Homo sapiens: one gene and its partner. The protein of the gene in region 1 interacts with the protein of each later gene in a pairwise test. Each region holds a gene or a part of one and is shown on either strand. Other genes may lie near its edges.

Region 1 (4,005 bases):
CTTAAAATATTAGCTGGGCACGGTGGTGCGTGCCTGTGGTCCCAGCTACTACGGAGGCTGAGGTGGGAGAATCACTTGAACTTGGGAGGTTGAGGCTGCAGTGAGCCATGTTTCCACCACTGCACTCCAGCCTGGAAACAGAGGGAGACCCTTTCTCAAGAAAATAAAAAACAAGGGCCGGCCGCGGTGGCTGACGCCTGTAATCCCAGCACTTTGGAAGGCAGAGGCAGGTGGATTACTCGAGGTCAGGAGTTCGAGACCAGCCTGGCCAACATGGTGAAACCCCATCTCTACCAAAAATACAAAAATCAGCCGGGCATGGTGGCTGGCACCTCTAATCCCAGCTATTTGGGAGGCTAAGGTGGGAGAATTGCTTGAACCTGGGAGGTGGAGGTTGCAGTGAGCCAAGATCACACCACTGCATTCCAGCCTGGGTGACAGAGCAAGACTCCGTCTCAAAAACCAAAAACAAGAAACAAAAAAGAAGTGCCACAGCTTGGGGTAGGAACTGACCGCATTTTGGGAGGTGGGGTGGTTGGGACCAGCAGTGCTTGACAAGGGACATGCAGGGGCCTTATGTTCAGGGACTGGGATACCCTGAGGGAAGAAGGACTTCCCGGGATGAGCTGGGCAGAATTTGGGGGGCTGTCCTCCCAGCTGACCGCGGTGTCGGTGCCTCCAGGGGTGTGTGGAATGTACCATACATCTCCCAGGCCTATGTGATCCGGGGTGATACCCTGCGGATGGAGCTGCCCCAGAGGGATGTGTTCTCGGGCAGTGACACAGACCCGGACATGGCCTTCTGTAAGAGCTTTCGAGACAAGGTGAGCGCGGGTGCACGGTCTGGCCTGGGGGCAGTCCCCCAGACTCCAGGCATCGCCTGCATCACGGACACCCCCACCCCACTACAGGGCATCTTCCTCCATCTGAGCAATCAGCATGAATTTGGCCGGCTCCTGGCCACTTCCAGATACGACACGGAGCACCTGCACCCCGACCTCTGGCAGATCTTCGACAACCCCGTCGTGAGTGGGGACCCCACGCCCAGAGCACACAGGTTCCCCGCCTTGTGCTAAGGAAGACACCAAACGTGATGGCTGCTGCCAGCGCAGGACACTGAGTGGGAGGGGGCGGTCCCCTGGGGGCTGGGAGCGAGGGGGGCACAGATCTGATGTGCCCCCCACCCTCTCACAGGACTGGAAGGAGCAGTACATCCACGAGAACTACAGCCGGGCCCTGGAAGGGGAAGGAATCGTGGAGCAGGTGAGCCCACGCAGCCTCCCCACCCACCCCCTGCCCTCATGGCCATCGCCTCTTGGGGGCCCCCGCCTGGATTCAAAGTTTTCACACTGAGTTCCCCAGAGATCTGAGGGTTTTCTGTTCAGACAAGATGAAGGCAGAGGCCGAACAGAAAGGACTCTTGCCCCCAAAGCCAGCATTGATCAGACAGCCTCTTCTCCTGTATATTGGGTATACTGGTGTTATGCTTGAAATCACATCTTAAAAGAAGAATGGGGCTGGGCTCAGTGGCTCATGCCTGTAATCCCAGCACTTTGGGAGGCCAAGGTGGGTGGATCGGTTGAGGCCAGAAGTCCAAGACCAGCCTGGGCAACATAGCGAGAATCTGTCTCTACAACAACAACAAAAAAATTAAATAAGAAATGAGGCCAGGAGTGGTGCTCATGCTTGTAATCCCAGTACATTGAGAGGCCGAGGCAGGCAGATCACCTGAGGTCAGGAGTTCGAGACCAGCCTGGCCAACATGGCAAATCCTGTCTCTACCAAAAAAAAAAAAAAAAAAAACACAAAAATTAGTCAGGTGTGATGGCGTGCACCTGTAGTCCCAGCTACTCGGGAGGCTGAGGTGGGAGAATCGCTTGAACCTGGGAGGCAGAGGTTGCAGTGAGCCAAGATCACGCCACTGCACTCCACCTTGGGTGACACAGCGAGACCCTGTCTCAAAAAAAAAAGAAAAGAAAAAATTAGCTTGGCATGGTGGCATGTGCCTGTAGTTCCAGCTACTTGGGAGTCTGAGGCGGGAGGATCGCTTGAGCCCAGAAGGTCGAGGCTGTAGTGAGCTATGATTGTGCCACTGCACTCCAGCCTGGTTGACAGAGCAATACCCTATCTCAAAAAAAAAAAAAAGAGGTATGCACTGTTACGGAAGTTTGGAAACCACTGTCCCAGCACGAGGGGCTCCAGGACCCTCTGCCACCTCTCCTGTGCCAGAAACCGGTCCTCAGCCTTGCCACTCCCTCAGCCCCTACCTGGCGGGTCCCCGGCTGCTCTCACAAAGCCTTCCCTGCTCCTCCCTGCCCCTTCCCATTCTGCCTGCTGCCTGTCCCCTTCCCCGTTCTGCGGCGTCAGCTAGCCCTGTTCTCCCTCGCCCCATCCTCAGCCATGCCCGGACGTGTACTGGTTCCCACTGCTGTCAGAACAAATGTGTGATGAGCTGGTGGCAGAGATGGAGCACTACGGCCAGTGGTCAGGCGGCCGGCATGAGGTAAGGGCCTGGGCGAGGAGGGCAGAGGCCTTCCCAGAGGAGGAGGTGCAGGATCTGGTAAACAAACAATGGAATCAGGAAAATGGGAGCAAAGAGGGGTTCCCAGGGGGGAGGCAGACCCTGGGGTCACAACTGCATTCATTCATGTATTCAAGAAATATTTACTGCTGGGCACAGTGGCTCATGCCTGTAATCCTAGCACTTTGGGAGGCTGAGGCGGGAGGATTGCTCGAGCAGGGGGAGTTTGAGGCCAGCCTGGGCAACATAGCGAGACCCTGTCTCTACAAAAAATTTAAAAATTAGCCGAGTTTGGGCCAGGTGCGGTGGCTCACGCCTGTAATCCCAGCACTTTGGGAGGCCGAGGCAGGTGGATCACCTGGGGTCAGGAGTTCGAGACCAGCCTGACCAACATGGAGAAACCCCATCTCTACTAAAAACACAAAATTAGCCGGGCATGGTGGCGGGCGCCTGTAGTCCCAGCTACTCGGGAGCTGAGGTAGAATTGCTTGAACCCGGGAGGCAGAGGTTGCAGTGAGCCAAGATTGAACTCCAGGCTGGGCAACAAGAGTGAAACTCCATCTCAGAAAAACCAACAAATTAGCCGGGCATGGTGGCATGTCCCAGCTATTCAGGAGGCTGAGGCAGAAGGATCACTTGAGCCCCAGAGTTAGAGGCTGCAGTGAGCTATGATCATGCCGCAGTACTCCAGCCTGGGTGACAGAGCAAGACTCTGTCTCTAAAAAAAGAGAAAAGGAAATCATTCCTGGGCCACTGTCCTAGACTGCACTGCAGGAATGCCTCATGCCGGTCGAGCTCTGCCCTGCTGTGAGCAGCAGCCACCACACAGCTTCTAAGGCTGCGATGAGCAGCCTGGGTGCAATAGAAGCCACGGGGAAGCCTTGACCCAGACTTGGGAGGAGTAGGGAGCTTCACAGGACAGGTGACATCTTAGCTGAGACTTGAAGGGCCGGGAGCAGTGAGTCAGGCCGAGAAGTAGCAAAGAAGACTGTTCTGCACAGAGGAACACAGGTGTGAAGGCTGGAGGACGGGAGGAAGGAGGCTGGACTGCCCTGGGGTGGGGAGCGCCATGGCTGGAGGGGCGGGTGGCTCAGTGCCCGCCGCCCCCAGGATTCAAGGCTGGCTGGAGGCTACGAGAATGTGCCCACCGTGGACATCCACATGAAGCAGGTGGGGTACGAGGACCAGTGGCTGCAGCTGCTGCGGACGTATGTGGGCCCCATGACCGAGAGCCTGTTTCCCGGTTACCACACCAAGGTGCGCTGCCCACCTGCCAGCTGCCTCCCCACCTTCCCCACCCCAGTCCCGGACAGGAAGTCTCCACGCAGACCCCTTTCGGCCCCGGCAGCATTTGGGCTCCATGCATTTTAGTTCCCAGGGGAATGAGACGCTGCAGGAGGCACCCCAGGGGAGGGAGGGCGCCAGGCTGAGACCCAAGGTGAGGCTTGGCCCTAATTTAATGCCAGTGAGCAGCGAGAGCCTCC
Region 2 (3,347 bases), on another chromosome or scaffold:
CCCAGCCTTATTTTTAAAAAATTCTCATTAATTCATAGCAGGCAATTATCAGGATATAATAAAAGAGGCAAAAAGACCACGTAGAGTGTGTAGTGCTTGACTGGTTGTTGCCGTTAGCGGTTGTTTGATATAGAGGAAACAAGTGGAGTGTTTTTTCTGGGATAATATGAGATACTCAGCAGAGACCTTATGGAAAATAAAGTCTTTTTAGAAGAGTAGTGGTGTAGAAATAGATGCAATTTAATCCCATTTTTAATTATCCAGCAATTTGAGAGTCACAACTTGTAACAAATTCACAAAGTGGCTAAGTAGAGTCTCTTCTCAATTGGAGTGTCTGATTTTACTGTGCATTTCTTTGGGGCATTTGAGATTTGTACATTTTTCTTTAATAGAAGTTTCTATATTCCATATATTACTTGCCCTACAATCATAATTCCATTGCCCCAGGATAAAGCACTACCTAATTGCAAGTAATCTTCTTGCTCATTTGTTGCATGTTTATTTCAAATAACTTATGCTTGGGGAAAACTTTCATGTGCTTTGTAAAATCCCCAGATTGAGTTCATAGTTGCAGGTATCTAAAGATTTGCCTTTGAAGACCTCAGGGATTGAATGAAATACCAGAAGCTATGCCCCAAAATACAACCACTTTTGTTTTCTTGTGTTTGTAATAAACAGTGTTAGAATCAGACCCAATTAACCCAGACTATTTTTTAATCTTTCTTTGGTCAGACGAATCACATTAAACATGATATTAGAAAAAAAAACTTCTTTAATGGGAAATTTTACGATTGAAATGATGTTTCATCTTATAGACCACAAACAAATGTTTTTAGACATTGAAAAGTGGTTAAAGACCAACTGCGCCCAGTCCCCCAAGTGCCATTTTCTGAGTGCAGAATGGAGGGTGACGTCTTGAGCTGATGCTGTGTCCCCAGCATCAGGTTTTCTGTTTTCCCTCTTCTCCCTTTATTCCTTCCTTGTCCATTGCCCTCAACCTTCTTTTTCTGTTTGCTCTGGCCTGGTTCAGTATAACATATCCATGAACTCTAGTATGGGCCTACGGACAATCATAGCTACAATCAGACTTTCTAAGCAAATGGGAATGTGATATACATATAACCATTAGAAACCCTATCATCACCTCCTAGAGGGGAAGTGAATTTCTTAATTTTTTTAGTTGCAAGAGTCACTTCTTAGCCAACTGACTAGAGAATGCAGAATGAACAGGGGAGGAAGGAGCTGATGGCACAGCCTTAGAACAGTAACCAGAACACACCCCCATCAAGTGTCACCTCCAGGAAGGCGCCCCACCCCCATCCTCCGTTTTCTGGGCTCATATTTAGGTAAAGCTCTAAGACTCCTGAGCCAACTTTTATGTAACTGGCTTTCCTAGGCTGGGGCTTGAACTAAGTAAAGAAGCCAAGGAGTTCAGATCTAGATAGCAGAGAAGTAAGTCTCATTCTAAAACATTGCAACTACTGTTAGAGTCCACCCCATGAAGCTGTTTCAGATTGTGTATCTTTGACTGAATTCTATAAGTATATATTGTTCAGACTAAAACAAATGTTGCTAGCTAGGTTGGCTGTGCTGTCTCAGTAGGACATTGACAGACTCCAGCTTTCACCCTCTGGAGACCTTGGACCTAAGTGCCACATGCATTATGAGACCTGGTCCAGGAGCTGTCCTGCCATGGCTAGCTCACGGCTTGACAGCAATACTTCTTCTCCTTCTCCGCCCAGCATAGACTTGGTCACCTGAAAGTTAGAAGATCAGTAGGAAGTTAAAACATATCTTGTGGCCTGTGGGGATCTTGGCTTGGGCAATTATGGCAACCGTGACTACTGCAAAGATGGCTTCAAAGGTGAAATCTTTTGTAAGACTACATTTATTTAACTTGTTTGCCCCATTTCAACACCAGCTTGGTTCTCCTTTTCCTCCCTGCTTTGACACTCTCCTTTTCTTCCTCACTGTGAATGGGATTGTTATGCAAATTCTGCTTTTGGCAGTGTCTGCCTGGAGTAATTGGCATTTGCCTGAATTTCTCAGGCTTGCTCTGGAACAAATCACCTGCTTCTCTAATGAGCGTCAGCCTTGCAGCCCTCCAGAACATGCAAAACGTGGAGCAGTCAACACTTACCTTTGTCTCCTTTTTCTCCCTTGTGTCCTCGAGGGCCAGGTGGCCCAGGATGACCTGGTGGCCCAGCAGGGCCCCTGTCACCTGGAAGGAAAAATGGGGCGTAACTAAGTAATACATGAGTCTGGGGACTGAGGGCACAGGTAGCCGGTGTGGCACCAGCACAGGAGCTGCTTTTCAGTACGAGGTGGGTGTTAACACAGGATCCAGGGACTGGCTCTCTGCCACCACTTACCTTTGGGTCCTGGAGTGCCCATCTCTCCTTTTTGCCCAGGGGGTCCTTGAATGGCTCCATAAGCTGCAAAAGCAAGGAAACACTGGCCTTAGAGTCTTGATCACCTGGAAGCTTGGGACATCAAGTCATTTGTTCAGAGTAACACAGAGAGATAGTGATGGAGTTTGGACGTGTAAGAGGAAACAAAGTTCAGAATTTATAGAATTTGTCTAATTTTGAGCATCTCAAATGTTAATAACTGGAGATTTCTCATGAGACTGGTGTCTCTGGAGCAGACCCGTGGGAACCTATGCAGTGAGGCAGGTGCTGGGAAAGCAGTTGGATGCCCTTACTTTGGAAGAAGTCCATGAGGTCCGCAGTCACGTTGCTGTAGGCAGAGAAGACCTTGCTGATGCCGGGTGGCCCCTGTGGCCCAGGCTGGCCTGGTGGGCCCTGGACAGTGTAGGCCATCCCTTGCAGTAGGCCCTGACCTGTAAAACACCAGAGCTTGGGCACAGGAAGCAGGGATCTCCCAGTACCCTCTTCAGCAGGAGCACAGTGCCCTCCGAGTGTCAAACTCCCAAAGCAGTTGAACTAGATCAAGCCGCAGCAAGGGTGAAGCCCTCCAACTTCCTTTGTATTCCACTGTGTGACTGGCACAGGTCTCTTCCTGCTGTGGGCCGGCATCAAAAGCTTGTTGACTGCGTAACTGTGCCGTTAAGCTGCGCGGGGAAAGGACTCTTAGCCAACATCCTTCTCTCGGCCCCAGCAGAAAATCCAGCATGGTCATATGACTCATCTGGGACCCAGAACGAGCTAGGTGTTGGGAAAACAAAGTACAAAGCCCCCAGCGTGCTCTGTTCCCCACAGCTCGGGTCCCAGGACTGGGGCTCCTTAAGCTGAGTAGGCTGAGAGCTAGGCTGGGGCTGCCTGTCCCCTCCAGCCCCTGCCTGCTTGATTCTGTCTTCACAGCCTGGGGGTTCCACAAACAAGAAA

What was found. The genes of interacting proteins can lie anywhere in the genome.
Region 2: the proteins of PLOD3 (region 1) and COL17A1 interact in binary tests that used the Homo sapiens proteins (3 or more experiments, as listed by UniProt).

What each region holds. Positions count from the first base shown.
Region 1 is NC_000007.14:101,207,351-101,211,355, reverse strand, and holds part of PLOD3 (multifunctional procollagen lysine hydroxylase and glycosyltransferase LH3 precursor), read left to right. Parts: intron 1-682; coding exon 683-824; intron 825-911; coding exon 912-1,025; intron 1,026-1,194; coding exon 1,195-1,263; intron 1,264-2,398; coding exon 2,399-2,503; intron 2,504-3,631; coding exon 3,632-3,778; intron 3,779-4,005. UniProt on the Homo sapiens protein: Multifunctional enzyme that catalyzes a series of essential post-translational modifications on Lys residues in procollagen. Plays a redundant role in catalyzing the formation of hydroxylysine residues in -Xaa-Lys-Gly- sequences in collagens.
Region 2 is NC_000010.11:104,030,534-104,033,880, forward strand, and holds the end of COL17A1 (collagen alpha-1(XVII) chain), read right to left. Parts: intron 2,843-3,347; coding exon 2,705-2,842; intron 2,436-2,704; coding exon 2,373-2,435; intron 2,222-2,372; coding exon 2,141-2,221; intron 1,758-2,140; coding exon 1,702-1,757; 3' UTR 753-1,701; downstream 1-752. UniProt on the Homo sapiens protein: May play a role in the integrity of hemidesmosome and the attachment of basal keratinocytes to the underlying basement membrane. The 120 kDa linear IgA disease antigen is an anchoring filament component involved in dermal-epidermal cohesion.